2 separate regions of the Homo sapiens genome follow, and region 2 is linked to region 1. The links come from fine-mapping of genetic effects on gene expression. A gene starts in region 1. The other region holds a variant in brackets. All regions are shown on one strand. Distances are from middle to middle.

Region 1 (17,533 bases):
CATAATTCAAAATTCACTAACATTTATGACTCGTGGTCTGATCTCTAGAGTACACATTGAAGAGAAATCTTTGTCTTCTAAACTTTGAAAAAATATCTTTTTTTTCTCTCATCCCTTTGTTCTCTTTCCTTTTTCTTCCTCTTGTTGCCTTTTATATAATCATCAACCACACATATTAATTCAACAGATGTCTAAACCAGGAGTTTCCACTTTTTGTGGAATGGAATAATAAGGTAGAGGGGAACATTTTTGATTAATGAGCACAGGTCCTTCTAGCATTCTAATATCCACCAGATTATTCTCTTCTACCATGAAGATCTGAGTATTACCCATTTCTCTGGCTTGCTGTCATTGTGACATCAACAGCCTTGCTATGAAGTGTCCCCAACTAATCCCTCACCCCCACTAAATGTTCTCCAGCAATTGTGGCATTTCCTAGGAGTTTCCTTCAAGGGTCTCTGCATAGTTGATCTCAGAAATATGAGGAATGCAGCATTTTTCCTCTCTTTCTTCTCAGTGAAGTTGGCCATGAAATGCCAAAAGGTTCTGTACTATCTCCACTGTAACTCCCTGTAAGTGCTGCACGTAGTTGGTGGTTGATATACCTCTGAAATCATGTCATGTTTGTGGGACACTTTACTGGATTTCTCTGTTCTATAAGAGGCAGCTTTCTCCCTTCTGCTGTATTCCTTGGTACCAAAACCTGTCACAGTGGTTCTTGTCACAGAGGATTGCCTTGGGATCCCAAAATCTCTCCTGGACTTTGTGGAAAAATTATTTATTTCTTCTTGCTGCTAGAGTTTTCTCTCCATAGGACTCAGACATGAGTCTATATGGATTGGGCAAAGAGGGGCCATTTATGCCTGAGACCATCATCCTCAACTTGCCCTCAAACTTCTTTGCCCCTTCTAGACCCATGTAAACCATTTTGACATTTCTCTGTCAAGTCACAGAACTTGACATGAAGCAGATATTGTTATTTGACAAAAGTATCTCCTTCTGATCATTTACAGATTCCTTAACATTTCATAATTAGCCTATTTTACAAGTCTCAATTTACATTCTGGAGCTTCCTTTCCATAACTTATTTCCTATCACCCAATTATGAAGTTAAATAATCAGGAAACCCTTCATTGCATCTTTTTGTGGCCACTGCTAAACCAAATGAAGCAGGCAGTCAGCCCTTCATGGCTTTTATGATGAGTCCTCAGATACCCCTGGAGTAGGTAAGGATGTATCAGGAGGCTCTCTGCTGGAAATAACACAACACACCTGAAACTGACTTAAAAATAGGGCTTTCTTGGCTCACACAACTGGAATGTCCAAAGAGTAGCAGACTTCATGCATGATGATCAGAACCCCGCCTCCATTTCTCTGTGATTCTCTCCATGTCTTACTTCTCCCTATTTCAACTTTGCATCATGGAGACCAAACGTCTGCAGCAATTTTAGGCATCATATTCATATAGCACATTATCTGGAAAGACAAAGAACACAACTTGCCTGGCATCCCACGCTTCACCCTGACAGAATGGGCTTAGGTTACAGATCAAGCCAGGAACTAGTGACTAAGGCCAGGGAAGGGGAATATGATGACAGATTAAGCCAATCAAGGGTCGTCCTAGAGCTTCGCCCTAAACACATGAGCTTCCTAGGAGAAAGAATAAGTATTATTAGAAAAGAATAAGAGGGCCAGGTGCAGTGGCTCACACCTGTAAGGTCAAGACAGGAGGATTGCTTGAGCCCAAGAGTTTGAGATCAGCCTGGGAAATATAGTGAGACCTTATCTCTAAGAGAAAAAAAAAATTATCCAGGCTTGGTTGCTTGCACCTGTAGTCCTAGCTATGCAGAAGGCTGAGGTGGGAGGATTCCTTGAGCCCAAGAATTGGAGGCTGCAGTGAGCCATGATTATGCCACAGCACTCCAGCCTGGATGACAGAAAGAGACATTGTCTCAAAAAAAAGGAGAGGTGGGGTGGGAATAGATAACTAGACAAGAGAAAAAAAAAGGTCCCCATGTCACCCATTGCTTCAGTTTTGTTTATTCCAATGCCATACTATCAGCTAAAATGTCACTTTCTATTCCATTTCTTAGCTGGAACTACGCTCAGCTTTGCTATCCAACCAAATACACCATACAGGATTTCACATTTCTCTATGTGCCTGTATTAGTCCATTTTCACACTGCTATAAAAATACTACCAGAGACTGAATAATTTATGAAGGAAAGAGGTTTAATTGACTCACAGTTTCACATGGCTGGGGAGGCCTCAGGAAACTTACAATCATGGTGGAGGGTGAAGAGGAAGCAAGGCACATCTTACATGGCAGGTGAGAGAGAGAGAGAGAGAGAGAGAGAGGACAGGGTAAACTGCCAAACACTTTAAAAGCATCAGATCTTGTAAGAACTCACTCACTATCAGGAGAAGAGCATGGGGGAAGCCACCCCCATGATCAAATCACCTCCCACCACATCCCTCCCTCGACAGGTGGAGATTAGAATTCAAAATGAGATTTGAGTGGGAAGTCAGAGCCAAACCCTATCAGTGCCTTACACTAAGATCTATGTTAGATTTCAACAGATTTATTTAGTATTAGGAATAACAATAATAATAATAAACCAGTATTTTGAGTTGAATACAAATCAATAATGAATTAGAGCAACTAATTTAACTGCATGGTTTTTACCCCTAAAAGTAGCAGAATTCCCTAAAATTTACAGTTTTAGAGAAAAATTTAAAATGCTTAAAAATTCCAGCCAGGTGTGGTGGCTCACGCCTGTAATCCCAACACTTTGGGAGGCTGAGGGGGCGGACAAGTTGAGCCCAGGAGTTCGAGACCAACCTGGGCCACAGGGAAAAACCCTATCTATACTAAGAATAGAACAAATTATCTGGGTGTAGTAGCATGTGCCTGTAGTCCCAGCTACTCCAGTGGTTGAGGTGGGAGGATCAGTTGAGCCCAGGATTTCGAGACCAACCTGGGCCACAGGGAAAAACCCTATCTATACTAAGAATAGAACAAATTATCTGGGTGTAGTGGCATGTGCCTGTAGTCCCAGCTACTCCAGTGGTTGAGGTGGGAGGATCACTTGAGCCCAGGAAGTCAAAGCTGCAGTCAGCTGTGATCATGCTACTGCACTCCAGCCTGGGAAACAGGAGTGAGACCCTGCCTCAAAAAATAAAAAATAAAAATAAATAAATGAATAAAATGCTTTAAAATTCCATGTAGGTATTAAATAATAATTCAAAATAGTACTACAGAGAGAGTATCAAGGGACCGTATGATTATCTTATGATAATTTAGAAAATATGAGCCATGAGTTCAGAATGAAAACAAGAGGCGTGTGAGAGTAGAGTATATAAGGATTCTCCCACTCTCCTTATCCAACATTTATTTCCTAGTTTCATGCAGCTCTCTTCTCAAAATTACCTAAGACAGGATTTTTCCTGCCTGCATGATATAAAGTAATGCACCATTGTGGCAGTGCATCTCCACAATGGTCCCCAGTAGCCCCAGCCTTTCAGAATTCACATATCTTCCCACATTAAATAGCATGTAGAAGTGATAAGTGATTCATTTCACTGAGGGAATGATGCAGCAAGCCAATTCTGAGATTAGGTTATAAAAGACTGTGGCTTTTGTCTTAGGTACTGTCTCTGTATTCTCTGTCTCTTCCTCTGATGGAAGAAAGCTGCCATATTTCAAACAGCACTGTGGAGAGGTCCTCATGGTGAAGAACTGTGGCCTACAGCCATTGAGGAAGTCTGACCTGCCAACAACCAAATAATCTAGTCTTGCTTCTTCAGCCCCAGTCAAGGCTTGAGATGCTGTAACCCTGAGCAACTGGCTTAACAGGAACCTCATGAAAGACTTGGCTAGAACCTCTCAGCTAGGCTGCTACTGGTGTCCTGACCCTTTGAAACTGTGTAAGATAATAAATGTTTTATGTTTTAAGCTGATATATTTTGGTGCAACTGGATAAATAGTAACCAATGCACTCCTTGCTCTCTGTTTCTAACCTTGCCTTTTAATTCCCCTTGCACTGTCATTATATATTAATTTCTTTAGTTTGTTTATTGTGTCTGTGAGAACAATCACATTTCTCTTTGAGTTGCCTTTGTATTCCTAGCCTGGAAGAGTGTTTGGAATGTGACAGATAGTCAATAAAAAATGGATGAGTAACGGGAGTCTAAAATTTTTATGCAAAAGACGATAGCTTTTCATTTACTGTTTTTAAGTCAGTCTACAGTGGTCTGACTTTATGGCCATTTGTGATTATAGTAGACATCTTCGTGGAATGTCTGCCCCATTCACTATGATCCTCTTACTTATGGCAAAAAGTCAATATGACCACAAGCACTTGTCATTGACAATTGAATGATTGCTGGACACCAGACCTGCTATGTTGGTGACTGGATCATGAGGGATCTGCTGTTATGAATGGATTAATCCATTCATGGACTAAGAGATTAATGGGCTAATAGATTAACGGGTTATCACAGGAGTGGAACTGGCGAGAAGGCTCTCACCAGCTTCAGCCTCTTGACCTTGGCCTTCTCAGCCTCTGGAACTGTAATAAATAAATTAGTTTTATTATTTATTTATTTATTTATTTATTTATTTTTGAGATGGAGTCTCACTCTGTCACCCAGGCTGGAGTGCAGTGGCGCCATCTCGGCTAACTGCAAGCTCCGCCTCCAGGGTTCACGCCATTCTCCTGCCTCCTGAGTAGCTGGGACTACAGGCGCCCGCCACCACGCCTGGTTTATTTTGTTTCTGTATTTTTAGTAGAGACAGGGTTTCAACGTGTTAGCCAGGATGTTCTCAATCTCCTGACCTAGTGACCCGCCCGTCTTGGCTTCCCAAAGTGCTGGGATTACAGGCGTGAGCCACCATGCCTGGCCTAATAAATTTGTTTTTAAAATAAATTACCCAGTTTCAGGCTGGACAGAGTGGCTCACACCTAGGCAACATGGCAAGACCTTATCTCTAAATATGTGTGTGTGTGTGTGTGTGTGTGTGTGTGTGTGTGTGTATAAAATTTATATCAGTCTACAGTGGTAGACTGATATTAAAAATATATATATATAAATTAGCCGGGCATAATGGCACATGCCTGTAGTCCCAGCTCTTCAGGAGGCTGAGGCAGGAAGATAGCTTGAGCCCAGAAGTTCAAGGTTACAGTGAAAAATGAAAATGAAATTAAATAAAATAAAATGTATAAATTACCCAGTTTTAGGTATTCTGTTATAAGCAACAGTAAATGGGCTAAGACAGAAAATTGGTACTGGGTTTGAATATTTGTCCCCTCCAAAACTCATTGTTGTAGTCTGTTTGTGTTGCTTTATAGGAATACCTGAGGTTATGTAATTTATAAAGAAAAGAGGTTTGTTTGGCTCATACCTCTGTAGGCTGTACCAGAAGCACGGTGCTGGCATCTGCCTCTGGTGAAGACCTCAGGCTGCTTCTATTTATGGTGGAAAATGAAGGAGAACTGGTATGTAGAAACTGCACAGCAATAGAAAGCAAGAGAGAGAAGGGAGGGGGTGCCAGCTCTTTTAGCAACCAGCTCTCATTGGAAGCAACAGAGCAAGAACTCATTCACTCTTGCGAGCATGGCACCAAGCCATTATGAGGGATCCATACCCACAACCCACAACCCAGACACTACCCACCAGGCCCCATCTCCAATACTGGGGACCACATTTCAATCTGAGACTTGGTGGGGGCCAAAACAAACCATATCCAAACCATAGCATTCATGTTGAAATTTATTTCATTTTAAATAATGTGTTTTGTTTTTTATTTTTGTGGGTACATAGTAAGTGTATATATTTATGAGCTCATGTTAAAATTTAATCCCCAAAGGGGAGTATTAAAAGATGGGACCTTTATGGGGTGATTGAATCAGGAGGGCTCGGCCCTCATGGATAGATTAATTCCTTCATAGATTAATGGATCAATAGGTTAATGAATTAGATTAAGGGGTATCATGTGAGGGGAACTGGTGGCTTTCCAAGAAAAGAAAGAGAAACCTGAGCTAGCACACTCAGCCTCCTGGACAAGTGAGGCCCTGTGCTGCCTTAAGACTCTTCAGAGAGTCTTTCACCAGGTATAGCCCCTCGACCTGGGACTTCTCAGCCTCCATAACTGTAAGAAATAATTTTTTCTTTACAAATTAGCCAGTTTCTGGTATTCTACTATAAGCAACAGAAAATGGACTAGGACAAGACCTGAGCTGAGCCAATCAGAAATTCTTCCCCGGGTATTAGGAATTAAAATCGAAAGAGGGAGAAAAAAGAATCTCTGTGTGGCTGTCCCTCTGCATCAATCTGGACAGGCTGTGTGGCACTGTGGTAAGAAACAACAGCAACAACCTCCAAAGCCTTAAGCAACAAAGGTTTATTTCTTATCACAATATGTGTTGCTATGGTTTGGATATAGTTTGTCCCCAAAAAGACTCATGCTGAAATTTGGTCCCCAGTGTGGTGATGTTCAGAAGTGGGGCCTATGGGGAGGTGTTGGGGTCATGGGGTGGATCCCTCATGAAGAGATTGTTGCTGTTCTCGCCAAAGTCAGTTCTTGTTCTGAGACACAGCAGAGACCCCTCTTAAGGGCTTGCAGGGCACTCTCCACCAAAAGATGAAAATAAAAAAAAATCTTGACTTCCTTAAAGAAAATTCCAGACATCTAGCTAGTCCTAAAAACAAAAACAAAAACAAAACAAACTTAAAAGCAAGAAGATAATAAGAGCTTAAAACAATAGCCAAAAAATTAATGTCACGGGATATTGTATTTCCTATAAAAACTAAAGGTAACATCTTAACATATGTCCCAAGTTGTTTTTCAGAAACCCAGATCCCCACTAAATGGATCCACTGGCACACAGGCCTCAAATAAGGGAGAATTGAAGGCTAAACTCTGACTACTATTCTTTGTTCTAAATTTCTTCTTGAGGTGCTTAAAGGAGGCCATGCCCATGAGCCCAAGCTAATATCCTTTTCTGCTGATATCAAATTTTTAGAGAGTTTCACCTTCTTAACAAATCACAAATCAGAAAATCCTTAAATTCCACCTATGACCTGTGGGCCCCCCTCTTTGAGATGCCCCGCCAATGCACGGCAGGCAAGCCCCAAATTGGGGATTTGCCCAGTAGAGTTCTTAGCTTCGCCAAGAAAGAATTCAAGGGTGAGCCGGTGGTGTTAAATAGCAACTTTTACTGAAGTAGTAGTGTCCAGAAGCAGCAGAGATACTGCTCCTTGCAGAGCAGGGCTACCCCATAGGCAGTGTGTCCAGAGTAGCATCTGAAAGGCAGTTCTTCTGTCATATTTATAATCATTTTTAATTACAGGCAAATTAAGGGGTGAATTATGCAGAAATTTCTAGGAAAAGGGTGGTAACCTCTGGGTTGTCAGGTTGTTGCCATGGAAAGGGGCATTAATATGGAAAGCTGCTTCCTCCCTGCCCCTGTTTTAGCTAGTCCTCAATTTGGTCTGGTGTCCAATTCCTGCATCCTACCTCACTGCATTTTTAGGTTAAGCCAATATATAACCTCCATATATTGATTTATGACTTTGCCTATAACCTCTGACACCCCTGCATTTAAAAACCCTTACCTATAAACAATTAGGGAGTTCAAGACTTAAGCACTAACTGACCAGTTCTCCTTGCTTGGGACCCTACAATAAATGCCTCACTTTCTTTCACTATAATCCTGATGTCAGTGTTTGGTCTTGCTGCACAGGCAATTGGACTCCAGTTTGGTTTGATAACAGCTCTTGAGAGATTGGAAAAGAGAGAGTCCCTGAGAGAGTGGGTTGTTTTCCACCTCCTGTTTGGTCTGTTTTCACATGTATCAGCTTCCCCTTTGACCTTCTACCATGTTGTGACACTGCACAAAAAACTCTAACCAGAACTGAGCAGATGCTCACACTATGCCCCTTGAGCTTTCCAATGTGCAGAACCATGAGCTAAGTAAACCTCTTTTTTAAATCCAAGCATACTTTGAAGATATTGGGGGTTCAGTTCCATACTACCACAATAAAGCAAACATCACAATAAGGCAGTTCACAGAATTTTTTTGGTTTCCCAGTGCATATAAAATTTATATTTACACTGTACTGTAGATTATTGTGTACAACAGTATTATGTCTAAAAAAAGTACATACTAAGAAAAGAAAAATAGCCCAGAGCTGTCTGAGCTATGTGAGGTATGCAAAATTTATTAGACCCGGACAGAAGTGAATACTGGCTTCCGCCACGCCTTCCCATGCCTTAGGGCAATTGTTAAAGGCATTTTGTTCTTTATTAGCTGCCTCACCCATTATCTTTATGTTCCTGGAATTTGTGATACAAGGAAGAAAGCATAGCCAGTCAATAGCTTAAGTTTTTTAAATATAAATTCTTGGTAAACAAGTTAAGCTCTGCCTCCTCTCCTTTCCTTAAAAACCGGCTCACGCCTGTAATCCCAGCACTTTGGGAGGCCGAGGCGGGTGGATCATGAGGTCAGGAGATCGAGACCATCCTGGCTAACAAGGTGAAACCCCGTCTCTACTAAAAATACAAAAAATTAGCCGGGCGCGGTGGCGGGCGCCTGTAGTCCCAGCTACTCGGGAGGCTGAGGCAGGAGAATGGCGTGAACCCGGGAAGCGGAGCTTTCAGTGAGCCGAGATTGCGCCACTGCGGTCCGCAGTCCGGCCTGGGCGACAGAGCAAGACTCCGTCTCAAAAAAAAAAAAAAAAAAAAAAAAAAACCTACTCCGACTGCTGCTAATTGGAGTGTATATTCAAGGCAACTTGAATCTAAGCTCCTGAGTGGCCATTCTCAAGCACTGAGCCCAAATAAACTCTATACTTAATATTATTCTCTGAATTTTCTTAAAGTTGGCAACACCTTAATTAAAAAAATACTTTATTGATCATGCTTATGAACATGATCAAATGAGAATCAACTTTCCTGTGTATGTGGGGAAGATATGCAACTAGTAACGCAGAAAGAGGGAAATGGGAAGAGGGAGAAAAGAGGGGCAGACATGGAACAAATGAGAGAGAAGGAAAGGGAAGCCAGAAGCCAGAAGCACATCAAGGATGACAGAAAATAAAAGGCGGATAAAATTCAAATGAAAAAGAAAGGAAAACCCCGACACCCTCCAAGAGGTCTCTCTGATCTGGACCACCGGCTCCAAGCCAGTAAGAAATCTCCCAGCCAGCTGTGCGCCGCGCGCCAGGCTGACATCGGCTTCCCGGATCAGCTCCGGCGCGGTACTGTGACGTCACCTGAGGGGGGCACTTCCGGTCTCGTGCCGCCTTCCCAGGACCCTCAGGGAGAGCGGGCAGCCTTCCAGGTGGACAGGTGAGGTACAGCTTGCCGAGCTCAGGGTGACTGCCCAAAGGAAGGACGGGTGGGCAGGCACGCGGGATCTGGCGCCCCTTCTTCTCTATGGTTCCTCGCAGAGCCCCTGTTGCCCTGGGCCAGATGGCCCGTAGCAGCAAAAATAATACTGTTCCGACAGCTCGCGAGTTCGGAGCCACTTGGCCTGGGAGTCCCTTGAGTTGCAGGCCGGGCAGTCGCTCACCCGAGCGCGGTAATGCAGCATTTGAACCCCTAAGTGTAGCCCACCTGTAGGGAGTCTTATGGTGCCCCCGCGGAGGAGTAGAGGCCAAAAAGTTGGGCAGCTGGCCGGGAAGAACTCGCTAGGAGGGGTCAAACTCTGGGCCGGGAGTGTTCTTTGCCCCCGGCGTTTAGTGCTCACGCCGCCTTTTATTCACGCTGAAGACCTTAACCGTAAACCCTCATCCTTGGGTCTTAGTTTGGTTTTGTTCCCCACGCAAGACAGAATGCAGATTGGAACACTTTATTCCTTGGTTAATTCGTATCTTCCCTCGCAAGTAGTTACCGGACACCTGCTTTGTGTCCTGTGTACCAAACACAAGAGTTGATAGTCCTGGCCGGGCGCCGTGGCTCACGCCTGTAATCCCAGCACTTTGGGACCCCGAGGCGGGCGGATCAGGAGGTCAGGAGATCGAGACCATCCTGGCTAACACGGTGAAACCCCATCTTTACTAAAAATACAAAAATAAATACATAAATAAATAAATTAGCCGGGCGTGGTGGCGGGCGCCTGTAGTCCCAGCTACTCGGGAGACTGAAGCAGGAGAATGGCGTGAACCCGGGAGGTGGAGCTTGCAGTGAGCCGAGATGGCGCCACTGCACTCTAGCCTGGGCGACAAAGTGAGACTCAGTCTCAAAAAAAAAAAAAGAGTTGATAGTCCTTGAGTTGAAAGAACAAATCTGTATGGAGAAAGAGATACAACCAAAAGAAACCCAGAAGATTTAGAAGCATCTCCAGAATGTTTATTCTCAAAAGCTGTTTTTTAATTAAACTTCTTTCTGAAACTATACGTAGGAGTGTCTCTTGTGTGTTTCCCCATTTTTCCACCTGAAGGTTAAAGACTTAGAAACCTGCTAAGGCCCCTCTTTCCAGCATGTAGCATTCTAGGGGGATAATCAGGGCAACACAGTGGGTGCCCATCTAAAATTTTATATTTTAATATTTTGCTTTTTGATAACTTAATGCCTTCAGACTGGAGGATTTTTTCTTTCTTTTTTTTAATTTTTTTAAAATTATACTTTAAGTTCTAGGGTACATATGCACAACGTGCAGGTTTGTTACATATGTATACATGTGCCATGTTGGTGTGCTGCACCCATTAACTTGTCATTTACATTAGGTATATCTCCTAATGCTATCCCTCCCCACTCACCCCACCCCACAACAGGCCCCGGTGTGTGATCTCCCCCTTCCTGTGTCCAAGTGTTCTCATTGTTCAATTCCCACCTATGAGTGAGAACATGTGGTGTTTGGTTTTTTGTCCTTGCGATAGTTTGCTGAGAATGATGGTTTCCAGCTTCATCCATGTCCCTACAAAGGACATGAACTCATTCTTTTTTATGGCTGCATAGTATCCCATGGTGTATATGTGCCACATTTTCTTAATCCAGTCTATCATTGTTGGACGTTTGGGTTGGTTCCAAGTCTTTGCTATTGTAAGTAGTGCTGCAATAAACATACATGTGCATGTGTCTTTATAGCAGCATGATTTATATTCCTTTGGGTATATACCCAGTAATGGGATGGCTGGGTCAAATGGTATTTCTAGTTCTAGATCCCTGAGGAATCGCCACACTGACTTCCACAATGGTTGAGCTAGTTTACAGTCCCACCAACAGTGTAAAAGTGTTCCTGTTTCTCCACATCTTCTCCAGCACCTGTTGTTTCCTGACTTTTTAATGATCACCATTCTAACTGCTGTGAGAAGATGTCTCATTGTAGTTTTGATTTGCATTTCTCTGATGGCCAGTGATGATGAGCATTTTTTCATGTGTTTTTTGTCTGCATAAATGTCTTCTTTTGAGAAGTGTCTGTTCATATCCTTCACCCACTTTTTGATGGGGTTGTTTGTTTTTTTCTTGTAAATTTGTTTGAGTTCTTTGTAGATTCTGGATATTAGCCCTTTGTCAGATGAGTAGGTTGCAAAAATTTTCTCCCATTCTGTAGGTTGCCTGTTCACTCTGATGGTAGTTTCTTTTGCTGTGCAGAAGCTCTTTAGTTAAATTAGATCCCATTTGTCAATTTTGGCTTTTGTTGCCATTGCTTTTGGTGTTTTAGACATGAAGTCCTTGCCCATGCCTATGTCCTGAATGGTATTGCCTAGGTTTTCTTCTAGGGTTTTTATGGTTTTAGGTCTAACATTTAAGTCTTTAATCCATCTTGAATTAATTTTTGTATAAGGTGTAAGGAAGGGATCCAGTTTCAGCTTTCTACATATGGCTAGCCAGTTTTCCCAGCACCATTTGTTAAGTAGGGAATCCTTTCCCCATTTCTTGTTTTTGTCAGGTTTGTCAAAGATCAGATAGTTGTAGATGTGTGGTATTATTTCTGAGGGCTCTGTTCTGTTCCATTGATCTATATCTCTGTTTTGGTACCAGTACCATGCTGTTTTGGTTACTGTAGCCTTGTAGTATAGTTTGAAGTCAGGTAGCGTGATGCCTCCAGCTTTGTTCTTTTTGCTTAGGACTGACTTGGCAATGCAGGCTCTTTTTTGGTTCCATATGAACTTTAAAGTAGTTTTTTCCAATTCCATGAAGAAAGTCATTGGTAGCTTGATGGGGATGGCATTGAATCTATAAATTACCTTGGGCAGTATGGCCATTTTCACAATATTGATTCTTCCTATCCATGAGCATGGAATGTTCTTCCATTTGTTTGTGTCCTCTTTTATTTCATTGAGCAGTGGTTTGTAGTTCTCCTTGAAGAGGTCCTTCACATCCCTTGTAAGTTGGATTCCTAGGTATTTTGTTCTCTTTGAAGCAATTGTGAATGGGAGTTCACTCATGATTTGGCTCTCTGTTTGTCTGTTATTGGTGTATAAGAATGCTTGTGATTTTTGCACATTGATTTTGTATCTTGAGACTTTGCTGAAGTTGCTTATCAGCTTAAGGAGATTTTGGGCTGAGACGATGGGGTTTTCTGAATATACAATCATGTCATCTGCAAACAGGGACAATTTGACTTCCTCTTTTCCTAATTGAATACCCTTTATTTCTTTCTGCTGCCTAATTGCCCTGGCCAGAACTTCCAACACTATGTTGAATAGGAGTGGTGAGAGAGGGCATCCCTGTCTTGTGCCAGTTTTCAAAGGGAATGCTTCCAGTTTTTGCCCATTCAGTATGATATTGGCTGTGGGTTTGTCATAAATAGCTCTTATTATTTTGGGATACGTCCCATCAATATCTATTGAGAGTTTTTAGCATGAAGAGCTGTTGAATCTTGTCAAAGGCCTTTTCTGCATCTATTGAGATAATCATGTGGTTTTTGTCTTTGGTTCTGTTTATATGCTGGATTACGTTTATTGATTTGCGAGGACTTTTTTCTTTGTTAAAATGTTGCTCTGCTTTCAGCATTTTCTCCCTTGTAGTATTACCATAATGTATTTAAGATTGAGCACTTAATTCTGAAGTCACTTTAAGTATACCTCAACCAAAGGGAAATTAATATATTATTTCTAATGAGTGTATTTAATATAGGTAAGTAGTTTGTACACTTGTGAAATTCTTGGCATTAATTGATGTCCAGAAGCTGAAAGCTACTCTCTGGTACATTAAAAAAAAATTGTGTGTGTAATTACAAGAAAGTTTGATGTCACAGTTGCAAAGGAGTTGTGCAAAACAAATTGCCTTTTTCCAGTAAAGATAATTCAGCAAGTTCATCTTGAGTGTAGTGTGTGGTTTCGTTTTTAATATGTCCTCAGCAGTAGTCATAGATTTTATCTTCATCATTTAAGCTTTATTTTCTGGCCCACTTGCACAGATTTAAGAAAAATCTCACTGGGGTTAGTGTGCAGTCATTCAGACAGCAAATACAGCAAAAGTAGGTGAAAATGTAAAAGTCATTAAAAGAAGAATTGTGAAATTGCTCATCTCGCAACCACATCAAGCAGGAGCAAAGACAACTACACAGAATCTTGGTGTAACATACACTCATTACCACTTGGACTTTCTCCTACAGTATTTTGCAGTTTGTTTTTTGGATTCTTTAGTGTTATATAATATTTCAAAGTAATATGTGACTGGGAAATATTGGAATAGGTATCAGAAGACTGTAGAATTTATTTTGCCATTTAAATGCTTATGTCCTTGAACAAAAAATGTAAACATCTTTGACCTTCAATTTCTTGTTCTATTAATTGCCTGCTTTTTAGGTCTGATGAGAAAGGAAGAGAATATAATTTGCAAATAAAAAGAAGCAAAAAAAAAAAGCAGTAGTTTTATTGCAAGGGGCTAGATGGTGATCAAGTTAGGATATAGAAAACAATTACTTGTTCTTACATGTTATTCTGGAGAAAGATGAGATGGATACCCATAGTTACAGCAGAAGCGTAAAAAGAATTCTGTTTATGCATCATCTGTTTATGTGTTGACTTTCACCTGTATGTTTTCAAGTTTATATAGGGCTATGTGCTAAGATTCCCAATTTTCCCCTTTCATACCACTTATTATACCAGTTGCAATTAAATACATATATAATTATTAATAACTTTTTTAAAAACCTTTTTGTTTTGAGAGAATTGCATATTCAGAGGAAGTTGCAAAAAACTTTACAGGGAAGTCCTTGTGTACCCTTCAGACTGCCTGCCTCAATGGTAACAACTTGGATAACTGTGGTACGATATTAAAACTGGGAAATTGACATTGATACAATTCACAGAGTATATTTCCATTTCACCAACTTTATAAGGACTCATTTGTGTGTGTACACAGGTCTATGTGTAGCTTCTTATAACTACCGTAATCAAGATAAAGAATTATTCCATCACCACAAGGCTCCCTTATGCTGCCTCCTTATAGTCAGTCTATCTTGTCCCAGCCCTATCCCTAACCCGTGGCAACCACTGCTCTATCTCTATAATTTTGTCATTTCAAGGATATTGTGTAGATGGACTCATACCGTATGTAACTTTTTGAGATCCATCCAAATTGTGTGTATCTGTCATGCATTTCTTTATTTATTGCTGAGTAGTATTCCATGGGATGGCTATGCTACAGTTTGTTTAACCATTCATTCATTGAAGAACATTTGGGTTACACTATTATAAATAGAGCTTCTATGAACTTTTGTCTGAAGATTTTTGAGTGAACATACATTTTTCCCCCTCTGGGATAAATGCCCAAGAGTACAATTGCTAAGTCATATGGTAAGTGTATGTTTAGTGAATTAATACTTCTTTAGCTTGTTGATATGGTGAGTTACATTGATTTTAAAATGTTGAACACAACTGGTATAAATCTCACTTGGTTAAAGTATATAATTATATATTTCCATATTCTATTTGCTAATATTTTGTTAAGGTATAGGTAGAGAGGTGTGAGAGGTTAAGGTATAGGTATGAGAGATGTGTTGTAGTTTTTTGCTTGTTTGTTTTGTACTGCCTTTGTCAGGCTTTGGTAGGGTAATAGTATTCTACATGGTTTTTAGTGATAACCCTTGTTTCATTATTGCTACTGTATTAGTAATTTGTGTCATTTTATCTTTTTCAGTGATGATTTGCTGGTTATAGTGACCTTTTTCAAAGAACTCGCTCTTTATTTCATCTTTGTCTATTTTTATATTTTTAATGTCATTGATTTCTGCTCTTATATTTATTATTTTCTTCCTTCTCACTTTAGGTTTATTTTGCTTCTTGTCTAGTGCTGTGATTATTAGTTTAAGGTCTTTCTTTGTTTCTAACGTAAGCATTTATTGCTATAATTTCCCTCTTGGCATTGCTTTTGTTGCATCTCACAAATTTTGCTGTCTTGTATTTTCATTTCTATCCAGTTCTATATAGTTTAAATTTTTCCTTAGAAATTTGCTTGACCCATGAAAATATTTGGGAGTGTGTCATTTAGTTTCCAAGTGTTTGGTGATTTACCTGTTGTTTTTCTGTTGTTGATTTCTAGTTTTTTTCCACAATGATCAGAAAACATAAGCTGTATAATTTTTAATTTTTAAGTTTCTTTTATGACTGAGGGTATGGTGTATCTTGGTGGATGTTCCATGTATGCTTGAAAAGAATGTGTATTCTGTTATTATTGGTTGCAGTGTTCTATACATGTCAGTTATGTCCTGTTCATTGATGGTGGTGTTCTGTTCTTCTGTGTCTTCTTGATCGTCTAATAGTTATTTTCGTTGCTGAAGATCCCAACTATAATTATGGATGTCTCTGTTTTTCCTTTGAGCTCTGTTGGTTTTGGCTTCATGTTAAATATCTGTTGTTTGGTGCATATACATTTAAGATGTTTTCTTGATGAATTAATCCTTGTATCTTTGTACAATAATTTTCTTTGCTCTGAAGTCTACTTAACTGATGGCAGTGTAGCCATCACTACTTAAAAAAAGTAGTTAGTATGGCATATCTTTTCCATACTTCTGTTTTCAACCTACCAATGTCATTATGTTTTAGTGAATTTCTTATAGACGCTATATGCTTGGGTCTTTTAAAAAAGAAACTTCTCTGCCAATCTCTGTCTTTTAACTAGTATAGTTATATCATTTACACTTAAAAGTAATTGCTGTGTTAGGGCTTAAGCCAGCCATTTTATTATTTGTTTTCTGTTTATTTCCTGTTTTTCATATCTGTTCCTCTTTTCTGGTCTTTCTGTAGGTTGCTTGAATATTTTCAGAATTCTATTTGACATGTTTATAGTGTTTTTGAGTATCTGGCTTAGTTAACCTTTTTTAGTGTGCTTTGGGTATAACAATAGATGTAACAACTTATCACAAGGGATACTTTTATTGCCTTTTGCCAATTGAAGTTTAGAGACCTTTCTTCCATGTAGGTCCTTTCTCCTTTTCCCTTTTTAAAATTTAATATTTGTATTTTCTCTATACACCTTGAACACCACATCAAATGTTGTTATAACGTTTACTTCAACTATCAAATATGATTTAAGAAACTCATAAGATGAAGAATAGTTCATTTTATATTTACCATGACTATTACCCGTTCCAGTGTTCTTCCTTTACTCAAATTAAACCTTATTGATACATCATTTCCTTTTTGTTTGAGGAACTTTTTTTTAGGAGAACCTCCTAAAGATATGTCTGTTAGTGACAAATTAGTTTCCGTCATCTGAGAATGTTGTTCCCCTTTGTTCCTGAAGGGTGGTTTTGTCCTATATGGAATTTGGCCTTGACAGTTCTTTTTCTTTAACATTTGAAAAATGTGCCATTTCTTTCTGGCTTCCATGATTTCTGATGAGAAATCTGATGGCATTCAAATTATTGTTCCCCTTAAAGGTAATGTGCCATTTCTCTTTGGCTGCTTTTGAGATTTTTTTCTTTGTTTTTAATTTTCTAAACTTGACTTATGATGTATCTTTTATTTTTATTTTTTCCCACTTAGGGTTTTTCTCAGCTTCTTGACTCTGTAGATTTATGTCTTTTGTCAAATTGTGAAGTTTTCAGCTATTATATCTTTATTTTTTTCAGCGCCATACTTTCTTCTCTTCCTCTAAAACTCTGATTGGATGAATGTTAGGTCATTTGTTATTGTCCTACAAGTCCCTGATGCCTTTCTTGTTTCTTTGTCTGTTTTTCTGTGTTCAGACTAAGTAAATTCTGTTGATCTGTTTTCAAGTTCACTGATCCTGTTCTCTGTCAATTCCACTCCACTATTGAGCCCATCCAGCAAGTTTTTAATTTTAATTAGTATTTTTTCTATTTTGTAATTATTTTTGGTTCTTACTTTTTAAAACATTTCATCCTTCAAGGAGAGCTACTTTCAATATACATGGAATTTCTTGGAAAAACTAGTAACAGTTTTAGGTTATTTGTATATATGAACTAATGTTACTCAAGATTTTAAACCTCTGCAGAGTTATCTCTGTAATTAGCAGATGAAGCATGAACATACATAATTTTTTTCTCTTTTTGTCTCAGGTAATTCCTTGTTACAGGCCCTAATAAAAGGGAAATGGGGAAGGAAATGGAGA
Region 2 (12,285 bases), 140 kb after region 1:
TGTTAGGGGATGGGGGGTAGGGGAGGGATAGCATTAGGAGAAATACCTAATGTAGATGACGGGTTGATGGGTACAGCAAACCACCGTGGCACGTGTATACCTATGTAACAAACCTGCACACTCTGCACATGTCCCAGAATTTGAAGTATAATTAAAAAAAAAAAAAAAAAAAAAAAAAGGAAACCTCCATGAAGCAATTCAGAGTAAGTCTGCCACTTGAGGTTTACTTGTTCATAATTTACTCTCTGGAGTACTATGTTAAATTTTTTCCTCTATAAAGTGTTTTTAACTAACCATCTAAATATTGGTTAAGGCATCATGTTATTGTAATGAAGGCCATTGTTTTCGTAAGATCAGTCTCATCTGTCCCATATTCAGGTCATGGATTTAATAATTGATACACTCAAACTATCCAGTGAGCAATAACGCCTGCTTCCCTGCACTCTCCTCCCCCAGCACTTGATCACCTCCAATCCTTCTTCTCGTTGTGGCCAGAGTGGTTTTCCTGACATAGGGACCTCAGCATGTCACTTCACTGTGCAGTCTTTTTTGCCTTGTGGACTTCGGGATAAAGCGCAACCTCCTTGGCATGCATAGAAGATGCTGTCCATGACCTCATCCCTCTCTGCCTCTCCAGTCTTATCTCCCACCACCCTATATTCCAGCCATGTGGAATTCCAGTTCCCCACACATGCCATGCTCTTTCAAGCTTTGGTTTGCTTGGTCTTCTCCCCACAGTGTGCTGCCCCAGCTTGAAGACTCAACTGAGGCATCAACTCTGGGGAATCTTTCCTGCCTACTACTTCTGACCAGCTGCACCTCACCTGAGCTCTCAAATTGTCTTGTATACATGGGGTCCCCTTCTCCCCTCCCCCCAAGACTGTCTTATCTCTATTTTCCAGGTTCCTAATACAAAGTAGGTGCTCCATTTGTATTTGATGAACAAAGGAATGAGTAAGCAATTCAGTGTCTGAATGAAGGAGCACATTTGGTATATTAGGGAAGCTGCAAGTGACTACAGCTGGCCAACTAGGGGCTGGAGCTAGGCATAGCTCTGTCTTTCAGTGATAACAGAGGTCAAAGGATCCTTAAGATTTAGTTCTTGGTTTTTGTAGAAATTGCCACTATCTGTTCTTCTGAATATAAGATGTTGCTTTGTTGCCTTTATTTTTAGAACTAACAGAACTAGAACATAGCAGTTTTTCAGTGAAACACAGCAGCCTAGAGCAATATACATATATATCACATGCAGGTTTAGGTAGATATCCATTCAGGGTCTTAGTAATGCCACAGAGGAGGCTCTGTCTCCATTCAGCTGCTTGCTGTCAATTGAAGTATGATTATTGCACTTCCCCACTGAATCAACATACAGGCTGCATAGAGCCTTTTCTTAGAAAGGTCATAAACTCTCTCAGGATTCTGATCACATTTCATCAGCTACATTGGAAAGCCTGAGTCTATCTGATCTGTGTTTGTATTCATTCAACAAATACATCCCATATGACTACCATGTGGCTATTTGGAAACAACTAAGTTTATTAACTGGTCACTAGTCATTCAGTGACTATGTCTCAATAACTGTCTTCGTCATCCTCACCGGCCTTCATTCCAGTGTCCATCCCAACCTTAGTACACAAAACTTTCCTGGTAAGTCGTTTCAGTGAATTATGAGTGATCTATCACACAAGAGTCTCCCAGCATGGGGATCTTCCCACCAAATTCTTCTAAGTGCACTCCTGTACATCGTGAAGCCTTGCTGCCTTGAGAGAGCCACACTCTGGAGAGAGCTTAGGGACTAGCTCCCAGGGTCAGGCGTAGGTGCTGTCCTCAGAGCACTGCCGGCTGCTGGTGTCATATCTGTGTCAGGAAGGGAACGTGTTTTCTAATAAAAGGTTTTTGTCTTGTCTTTCAGCTTACATTTTATTATGGTACTATAGATCCTTGGTGTCCAAAAGAGTACTATGAAGACATTAAGAAGGATTTTCCAGAAGGAGACATTCGACTCTGTGAGAAAAACATACCTCATGCTTTCATCACCCATTTTAACCAGGAAATGGCAGACATGATTGCTGACTCCCTAAAGGATGACTTGTCCAAAATGTAAATTGGCCTGAGGAACAAGCCCCCACTGCCAGTACATGGAGGCAGTCAGTGTACTAGACTTAGTAGGTAAATGTTTAATTTTGAAGACTGATATTAGAAATGAAGAAAGTGAGAACCTTTGTCTTACAAACCAACTCTCCGCTCGCCATGTTATAGGCTGAAGTAAACACAGTTGATGAATCATTCCATAGGTTTAACCATACATTTTCCAAGACTCAGGGAACACAGTGATCTACACAGAGTCTTGTGTTTGCACAAGATGCCCAGTGGCACCATATGGTTTATTTTGGTAGGCAGGATCTTTGCAGATGAAAAAAAAATCTACATGTACTTGATTTTAATTGAGTTACATTGTAGAATAGGCTCCTCTGGAGGAAATTATGAAATACCTACTAGAAAATGTAAAATAAATCAGTGAATGTTAAGAGTATAGTTAGATATGTGAAGTGTATGAGATTATGACAAGGATACACTCATGTTCCAGGAGCAGGAAGTGAACCTGGGTCTCCTGTAAGACAGAAGATGAAGATGAGCCCAGGCTAACTTAGCACAGATCTTGGCTGAGATCATCAATGTGACGTCTAATGTACCTGCACTAGACAGAGAATAAAGTTCACCAGACATTACTCTGGTCAGCTAACCAGATAAAGAATTGTTGAAGGACCCCAACTGTGCCTCCTGCCACAGGACAACCAGCAAGTTCTATGCTGAGCCTTAGCCTCCCAGGTTATAAGCTCCCTGCAGGCTCCTCCTCTCCAGAGCCAGGATGGAGAGGCACTGGGCTGTCCCAAAGCAGGCTTGGATGTGCCAACGTACAGTTGCTCCTTCTGTAATTCTTGCACTAAAACTCCATTAAAGACCATCAATGAGCCAAATAGTGTGCTAGCCATTGAGGATGGAGTTCTTAGCTACTTAATGATTCTTTTCTTCTGGAAATCTTCTAGTGAATAATTTTTAAAAGCTTCTTTTAAACTGCTCAGTAAAACATTGCCATACATTAACTCTCCATTTCTGCATTAACTTCATTTGCTGGAAAGAAATTATTTTGTTAATGAACCAAACCCAGCCATTAAGTTATGTGAATTCACCTTCTCTAGACACATTGAGGTATGGCAGAGAAGACACATATTCCCTGGCCTAGAGTGGGCTGACAATATTGCTGCCTCCCCTAAATTGACTCAATCTTGAGAACCACATACTGCAGTGACAGTTGATCATGGATCAGAAATATTCCTTTTTCTCCTAGAGGAAATCCCTCATGGCATTATCATTCCCTAAGGACAATGAGATGTCCCTCCGCTCAAATCCTAAAGCCCCCTGATGAAAGATTTGGCTCTGATTTGCTGCCAACTTATTGGTAAGTGCTGAATGAGTTACTGTGCTTTGGCATAGCTTCTACATCACAGCAAGTGACTTCTCAGAGGGGAAAAGCCAAGCTCCAGACAAGGAGTGCTGTTAGCCCAAGGGGAAGAGCTAATAGATACATAGGCCGTAAGCACAGGGCTGTACACAGATCCTTTATTGGCATCTGCATGAGAGGCCTAGAAATCGGATGTTAGAAGCTAGGAATCATGGCTCTGAGCGCCTTGCATACAGGAGATACTCACTGATACTAAATCAAGGCATGTAAACAATACTGGGTAAATCATACCTACCAGAATAAAGAGTAACATTCAGAGCTTTTCTTTTATCTGTTATTTTAAATGTTACTCCATATTTCAAAAGTCTGCACGTATGAAATTGTGTCTTATTTCTGGTTTTTAGAGCCTAAGAAAGATACTCATTCTTAATTCCTATTTATCATCTGAAAACCAAATGAATTTTTGAAATAAATGTTTTACCAGCATTTCTGACCTGGTCTGGCCTGATCTCTGTGTTGGGCAAGAGAGGGTACAATTTGAGCAGTTCTCCTGAGTTAGACTCGGCTCAAAGTCTCTCTTTTAAAGTGAAAAGCCACCTTTCTCATTGCTTTTTTCATAGGTGGAAGAATCAGATTTCAAGAGACTGAAGTTCATTCTGTTTCATTAGGGATTAGACTAAAATGGACAAACAGTGGAAGAAATCCATTTTCCAGAAGCAGCTCTGCCTGTATGTCCCAGTCAACCACATGGATGGTCTTTGTGAAAGTTTTAACTTCCTGCAGAGTTACCGAGTGCTCAGCGATTGAGCTTTGACCACACCCGTGTTTGTTCCTAGTCTGTTCCCAGCCATAAGCATCTCCACAAGCCCTCTGTGGCTTGTGTGGCCTGATGTCCATGGCCACCAAGGGCCTCTCACCATACGCTTCTCCACTCAACCTTTGGAGAGACACGGACCACCAAAGGCTTGATTTTTCTTCATCCTACATTATATTCAAAACAAACAGGCTGGGTGCCGTAGCTCACACCTGTGATCCCAGCACCTTGGGAGGATGAGCTGGGAAGATCGTTTGAGGCTAGGAGTTTGAGACCAGCCCGTGCAAAAAACGAGACCTCGTGTCTAAAATAATTTTTAAAAAAGAGCAAAAAAAAAAAGCAATTTCAGATTAAAGGAGACTGAAGAGACATGACAATTGGACACAACATCTGATTCTGAATTGGATGTTTTTGTTATAAAAGACATTGTTGAGACAATTTGCACAACTTGAATGAGGTCTGAAGATTAGCTGGGAGTAAGATGCCACTGTTAATTTTCTGATTTCAGTGGTTGTACTGGGAAGAAGTAAGAGAGTGTCCTTGTTTGTACTGGAGACACTGAGGTATCTGGGGGTGAGGGGCATCATGTCTGTTTACTGTCAGATGGTTGAGGGGAAAATAATGTTCTTTGTACTTGCAGATTTTTTGGAAGTTTGAGATGTTTTAGAATTTGTAAAAATAATTATTTTTAAAACCCCACCATGCTATCTCCTGCATCCGTGTCTCATTGCTTCTTTTCCAAAAAGGCTATTTCCTCTTGTACGCAGTAAATGAAGACCTGGGTTCAAATCCCAGATCTGTCATTTGTTAGGTTTGTGACATAAGACTTCACTTCACCTCCCTGAGTCCCCCAGCTCCTCATTTTTTTTTTAATGGAGATAAAATGAGGTCATGCATATAGCATTTAGTATGTTGCCTGGCATATGGTGGATTCTCTATAAAATGGTACCTAAAGGAGGATAGCAAACTTGTTTTTCCTTTTTTCCTTTCATTTCTCTTCTCTTTAGTGTAGCAGAGGACCCTGTGGTATCTCAGTCCCTGCACTGTTTCACCAGGCTTGTAACTTGATTCTAGCAGTCAGCATTTTGGCTCTTACGCAGGGATAACACTTGCTCACCTGGCTCAGCTTTCTGGCCTCAGCCCATTCAGGCCTCCCTGCACACAGCCCAGGATGTTCTAACAGTCGATTTAGAAAAGATGCGGGAAGCAAAGCATTTCTTAGATGGCTTGAGACATCTTCATCCCTGGCCTTCTCTTGCAGAAGAGAAGAGGCAAGGATATATTTGGGCTGCTCCTTCCCTTAGGGGTGGGCCTTAAGGAGAGGTTGGAGGCTGGGACTGAGTGTGCTCTGTGAACAAATACATCTGTGGGACCTTGAATGAAGCTCTTCTGCAGGAGTGCTGAGGACAGCAAAGCTCATATGAGTGTTCTTCTAATCACTTTTTAAGAGGATTGAGATTCCTGCCTGTGCCCCATACAGACATGGGTAAGTGATCACATTGGCCCAGGTGAGGAGTGTCTGTGGGACATGGGTCTGGCCTCTCCCACCAGGCTGAAGGCATCTCTAGAGCAAGACCGGCGTCACTGAGTGTGATGCTGGGTGAGCATCCTCAGAGCACGAACGAGGGTCAAAGAAAGCTCTGGGTGGTTCTATGGTTCTATAAAGGGTTCTATAAAGACAAAGCTCTTGGAAGAGAGAAGAGGATGAGGTTGCCCCTAGTCCTAGAAGGGCAGGTAGAACTTGGATAGGTGGTTTGGAATAGATGAGAGCTAATCCAGATAAGGAGTATGCTGCTCACCCCAGCACCTTCACAGTGTCTCACTTAGGCCTCCCAATCCTGTGATGTTCTGACTATGCCCATTATACAGATTACCACTGAGGTGCCTTGCTAAGGACCTCACAGTTAATAGATGACAGAGCTGGGGTTCTCCTGTAGTTGCACATGTCCTCCAAAGTTCGTGTGTTAGAGACTTAATCCCCAATGCAACTATTGGGAGGTGGGTCCTAACAGGAAGTGTCTGAGTCATGAGGGCCCTTCCTTCCTGAATGGATTAATGCCAGTGATAAAAAGCCACAATATTAGGCTGCAAGTTTGATCTCTTGTTCTCTCATGCTCTCTTGCCCTTCCACCTTTTGCCAGGGAGGATGTAGCACAAAGGTCCTCACCAGATGCCAGCCCCTCAATCTTGGACTTTCCAGCCTCCAGAACTGTAAGAAATAAATCTCTTCTTTATAAATTACCCAGTCTCTGATATTCCATTATAGCAACAGAAAATGAACTAAGCCAGATTCCAATTCAGGCCTCTACTCCAGAGCCACCACTTCATCCCCTTTTTCCACTGCATCATGCTGCCTCCTGGAGGCCACAGTGGGCAAGCCTAGCAAAAGTGGAGAGCCGGGAAAGAGAGTCACGCAAAGGGCAAATGAGGACCCGATTGACAGAAGAAGTGACGAGTAGATCGTTGGTAACAAATGAGTAGTTTTAAAAGAATGAAAGCTATAACAGAGACCAGTTTTCAGACGGCAAAAATATGCATCAGGCAGTGGATTGAGAGAAAGCAAGCCCACATGCTGGGAGTCAGTGCTGTGGCTGCAGCCACATGGCCGGCACCTCTGCAACTCTTCCATAGCCACCTGGTCTTATGCCACGCACGGGAGCTTCCTGTGGACTCCTCTGTACAGGAATCACTGCTCCAGCTTTGATTACGCCCATCCTCTACCCCACCCCATGAGACGTGGCCTAAAATACCAACTGCTCCTGCCTCCCAGAGCGGTCCTTCCCACCCTTCCATGCCCTGCCAGTCTTCATGACCCCTGGCCTGGCCTGTGTCTACTGAATGACTTATCATTGCTGCGGGATTGTGTCTCTGCAGTCTGCTCCTCCCTGCCTCCACCAACACCCCTTCTCTCAGGAGAGTCCTAGAAGATGACCTTCTGTCTTAGTCATCTCTGTGCTGTCAGGGCATATCAAATATGGCCTGCTACACAGGGTAGTCTATAAATTTTGTTATCTAAATTAATAAAAAGTTTCTACCATACCTAATAGGCAAGCTGTGAAAAAGTGCAATTCTCACATTGGGTCGGACTACCAGGAAATCACATCTCTGGGCTTCTTCATCTTAAAACTGACACATCAGTGGGAGTGCAGACATGGACACTTGCTCTTTTATCCCTTAAGTGTTTCCCCAGCAGAGCTGTGCACAACTGGGTCAGATAGATTCAAGGATGTCTGAATCTTTGCAGACTGTTTGTGTCTGGCACTGGGGGACTGCAAGGAAGCAAGGCCACTATCCCTTGTGTCCCATTCATCTTGTCTGATATGGCTGCAACTGTTACTTCCATTCTTCTACAATTAGAAAACCTCTGGAGTTTGGGTATTAGCAACTACCAAATATGTAGTTTATTATTTGCTGAGCACTAACCCCGCGCAGCACCCCGAGTGGGAATTACAGCAACAATACACATGACTGTGCTCTGGGATAATCGAGCATTTTCATTTTGTGTTGCATTCCTCAAACATTCTGGCAAAGGGGCCTGTGCTGACCTCCCCACATTGGGACAGATTTCCTTGCTGGGTAAGTCTATGGGAAAATTCCTCTTCCCTGGGATGAGAATGTGACCCTGTGACTGGGCGTCCATTACAGCCAGGGGGTGCGGTGCACCTGCAGGGTCTCCCTCCCTCACAGAGGGACTAGAATCCCGCCTCTGCAAATCCATCCAGCTCAGGCTCTGCAGAACATCTGGGCTTCCTCCTACTGGCCACTGTGAAGGGCCACGCACCTGCATGTGATTAGGACTCGGCAGACACCCACAGCCTATAGGGCTGCATGCTGGTGGCACCTCACAGTGGACAAGTTTCTCCCCAGATCATTGTCCTTTCTGAGCAGATGAGTCACAGGGTTCCTAGGACACAAGAGCACATGCATCCATGACCACGTTGGGCACCACCCTCAATGGAACAGCAGTTGGAGGCATCTTTGCCTTGGCCTGCTTGGAAATGAGCAGGCATCAGAGGCAGATCCAGGACCTGACAGGACCAGGGAAGGAGTGGAGAAGTCAATCTTAGCCGCCTTTACCATTAGTCATGGACGGGCCTTTTAGATTTGCTCTTATCAGTGTCTGGGAAATTGGATAAAATTTTTAATGCCACTCCCGACTTTCCTTTCTCCCTGTAACTACTCCTCTACTGAATGTGTACTCTAACCACAGAATGCTGTGGTAGGTCAAATGGAGACTGAAAAATAAGAAAATGAAAAATGGACCAAAGATGCTTATAAACAAAGCATGACAAGACATTCCAGTTTTCGATGGCAGGGTCATAGAACTTACACATTGATTGTACCTGCCAAATGAGTTAGTTGGAAAGGGAACACAATTTCTCTTCCAAAGAAGAGACTCCTTTATTTATAATAGGAAATCGAGTGGTGAAAAGAAGGCAGGCTTTCTTGATCTTTCACCAGAGAGAGAAAGTTACATAACCACAGGGACCTGCATTAACAAACTGGGATATTGAATTCACCATGAACATGGGCTGCCATCACTGACGAAAATGTGGGTCACTCCAGCAGGCTTCATATCGCAAAAGAGGTAATCCTGGTAACAGTCACTAATAAGGCCAAGTCCCTGTCAACTTCCTACAATTCCTGCTCTGTCATTAGTCCTCTCCCAGAAATATTTAAGGAACACATGAAATAGATTTCTCCATCTGGGCAAAAGTCAGCTGTGAGAGCTGGGATAGCAACAGAACGCTGTGTGGTTGATCCTGTCCTGCTGCATCCTTCGTGGTGTCACCAAGCACAGGCTTTTGTACTTGTCTCGAAGAGTACTGGGC[A/G]AAAAAAAAGGCCTGTCGAATTTGCTGTAGGACCTTATTGGGTTCTGTGACGTATGTAATTGGCCTTGCAGAGGAAGCGGCTTCCATGGGACTTTATGCCTTGGGATTTCAGAGACTTACCTGTGCATCCTCCAGGTGGGGAGGGCTCATGCTTTCTGGAGTGAGACAGGTCCTGCAGCAGTCTGAGATGTATAAACACAGAAAACCTGTCCACCCAAACTGCATTTGGAATGACAGTGCTCACTCTACACATTATCATGCTCATTTCCCAAAGAGAAAATGTTTTCCACTGCATTTTGGCCTCCTTTCCTGAACCCAAGCTTGATGTTTTTTACCTTGCTCTGCAGTGACTTCATGCCGTGTGAGGCTGTGTGCAGCAGCATCATATACAGTTTCATACCAGTCACCAAGACCCAGGGTGCAGCCCCCCATACCAGAGGCCCACAGCCTCACACCTGATCTGACAATACAGGGGAATGATCGGCACAAAGGCAAGTGGAGTCAGGCCTGTTATGTCACTCTCACTATTAAAATGCAGTCAGTCCTAAGGCCTCAATAGCTGGTCGCTATTCTATTAATGAGGACTACAGTAACACAGAAAGGCTGAGTAACAAAAGCTGAAAATGTTTTCCTTTAGAGACCAGTCATGAGCGGTTTTATGAATAAAATATTTAATCAACTTATCTGTACAAAATATTAAAATGGTTAATGAAGAGTATACAAGCATGTTCAACAAATATATACTGCTATATAATAGTTAAGAAAAATAGAGATTGCTGTTTTACATGTCATTTACATTTCACTATGTACAATCTATTTAAATTTGAGAATATATATACACATAGGTTTCTACCAGCCCTGGGAGGGCTCCCTGCTAGCTGGCCTGGGCATCGGCAACACCTCACAATGTCAGCTTGCATTGCCCAAATAAACACCCAAGCCAGGCAGCAAGGAGACAGCCCAGCCTGCAAGCCTCGGAGTTCTGCTGTGGCTACACCAGCAGGAAGACTGCTGATGAAGGAGATTTCAGTTTGCCTTAAATGAGTTTCTAATGTCCCCCCACACTCCAATCTCCTTACTCCCAAGCCAAGCTAAGAAAAAGTGGGTGTCACTGCAAAGCGAAAGGATTTCTATCCCCTCACCAAAATAATTCTTTTTGTCTTTAGCTGCTGAGGAAATGGCATGTTACTGAGCCTTGATGGCATTACTGGCACTTTGAGTTTTACCGTTTCCTTAAAATCACAGTACTGGAATCAGATGAAATTTGCTTTCTAAGCTGCAGCCACTCGTCATGTGCAGAATTCTGCTGCCCACCCAAGTCCTGCTTAAACAGCCGCATTTTATAAGCTGGTACGGGAGCTCTGCAACAACCTTCACAGAGAAAGGATCTGCTGCTTTATTTGTATACAAAAAGAAAAAGACAGTCCAAACTTTTCAGAATCCCTTATTGTCATCTGCTGAAAGGGCAAGTTGTAGTTAGCATGTTAATCCTTGTAAAAAATGCATTAACTTTTCATTTAGGGTGAAATGCTTCCAGCTAAAAGACCTAAAGTGACTCAATTATGATTCTTCGTCAAAGAAAACATAAAAGCTGTTTGCATTACAGTGTAAAGTGAAATACAAAAATAAAATTATTCTAAGGATGCTCATGTTTAATCCATGATTTATCCAAGGCAGAGAATGCCAGAGAATTCCTCTCTTGAGAGTCTCTGTTCCTGGCTTAGAACACTTGAGTATTTCCCCTCCAGAAAACATATTTTATCCTGAGCTTTCTTTCTCACTGAACTGCATCATCATTTTCTAAACAGAATGCTGAAGAGCTGACTTTGAGTCTGACAGGCCCTGACCCAGGAAATGAGCCCTGCTTGTGGGCAGCCCCTTCCTCAAGCCAGCCTACTCACCCCAAGCCCAGCTGCTGCTGCTGCTGCTGCCCCAGGCCAGGGGAGGATCCAGGACACATGTGCGTTGTCTGGCCTTGGCAGCCCTCAGTCACTCAGAGATAAAAAGGTGCAGGCAAGGGGAGGCCCTCAACACACCTGGTCACTGCTTTTCAGACTCATTCACCAAAAAATCCAGGCATGGGCTGCCCATAGCCCATGAGCGGTCTCCCCAGGATGACCTGTGAGTACTAAAAACCAGAGAAAAGGTGTGTGCAGTTGCACCAGCTCACCAGCTTCGGTGCTGTCGCTTCCCATGTTGCAGCTCAGGAAATGTCCTCGAGGGAAGTTTAGCCCCGTTTGCTTTGGATTCGTTCCTGTTTCCTTCTAATTCAGCAGGATGCCTGTTAACGAACCTTACTCGGAAGTCTCGCTTTGGTCAGCCATGGTTCTAGATTCTGGCAGCCAAAGGTCTGGGCAGGAGCTAGATGCAGAACTGGTTGTGGCTGTTGCCACTGCTGGTCAGATGGAGCAGTGCAGGTATTCTGCAGAGAAGACAGCCACTTGCCCACCTCCTGCCTGGACAAATCTCCAGCCCCCACTACGTAGCACTCCTGTTGGCCCACAACACAAAAGGTAATGAAACGGGAATGCAGATGCAAAGCAGCTGGCCGTGCCCTGGCCGCTCTGGACCACTCTGCCGAAAGTGGCCTGGGTGTGACAGAAGCTTCTTGTTTTTCTAGACAGTTTATTTCAGCATCCCCTTACTGACATAGAAAAGAGATTAAAAGTTTCTGTAATACAGCTTCTATCAGGTGGCCCTCTCTGGAGTGAAGCATTTCTAAACTAGCAGAAGGAAGTTCATCTGACAAAAAAAGAGTGAAACTGTACTTCTTGTATCATCACACCAAGCTGTCCTGCCAACAAATTCACCTGACTGCACAGAAACACCTCTCTCCGGAAGTTTCTGTGACCGCTGCAGCCCCCTTGCCACTGTCAGGGAAACGTGTGAGAGAAACCCACCCTTTCTGTTGTCACAGACACATGCGCACCATGCACAGATGCTAGAAGAGGCCTGCAAGCTCTGCAGAGGCAGGAGGAAGTGGACCATCGCACGCTGCTCTGCTGCTCTAAGGGCATATTTTTGCTTTTTCAGCAACTGTGAGCATAACTTGAAACTCAGTCTGATTTTTCAGTGACTTCACACCCATTTTTCAATGACCACCCATCCTGGGTTGCTCTGCTGTAATTGGTCCTGCCGCCATGAAGCACCAGCCCAAACTTTGCCCAGCCAAAGGC

What was found. PIP is the estimated chance that this variant, and not a neighbour inherited with it, causes the effect.
Region 2: its variant is fine-mapped to the expression of LDAH in whole blood (INTERVAL, PIP 0.99).

What each region holds. Positions count from the first base shown.
Region 1 is chr2:20,814,856-20,832,388 of GRCh38, reverse strand. It overlaps LDAH (lipid droplet associated hydrolase), which reads left to right and starts at 9,288. Exons shown (of 7, transcript NM_021925.4): 1 at 9,288-9,352. RefSeq lists enhancers at 9,105-9,494, 9,715-9,784, 9,587-10,412.
Region 2 is chr2:20,676,722-20,689,006 of GRCh38, reverse strand. It overlaps GDF7 (growth differentiation factor 7), which reads right to left. Exons shown (of 2, transcript NM_182828.4): 2 at 9,764-12,285. LDAH (lipid droplet associated hydrolase) reads left to right here. Exons shown (of 7, transcript NM_021925.4): 7 at 1,913-4,976. The coding sequence ends at 2,104. Among named protein-coding and RNA genes, the nearest start is that of GDF7, 16 kb to the right of the region's middle. RefSeq lists an enhancer at 12,063-12,285. The variant A/G (reference allele first, on the strand shown) is at 9,110.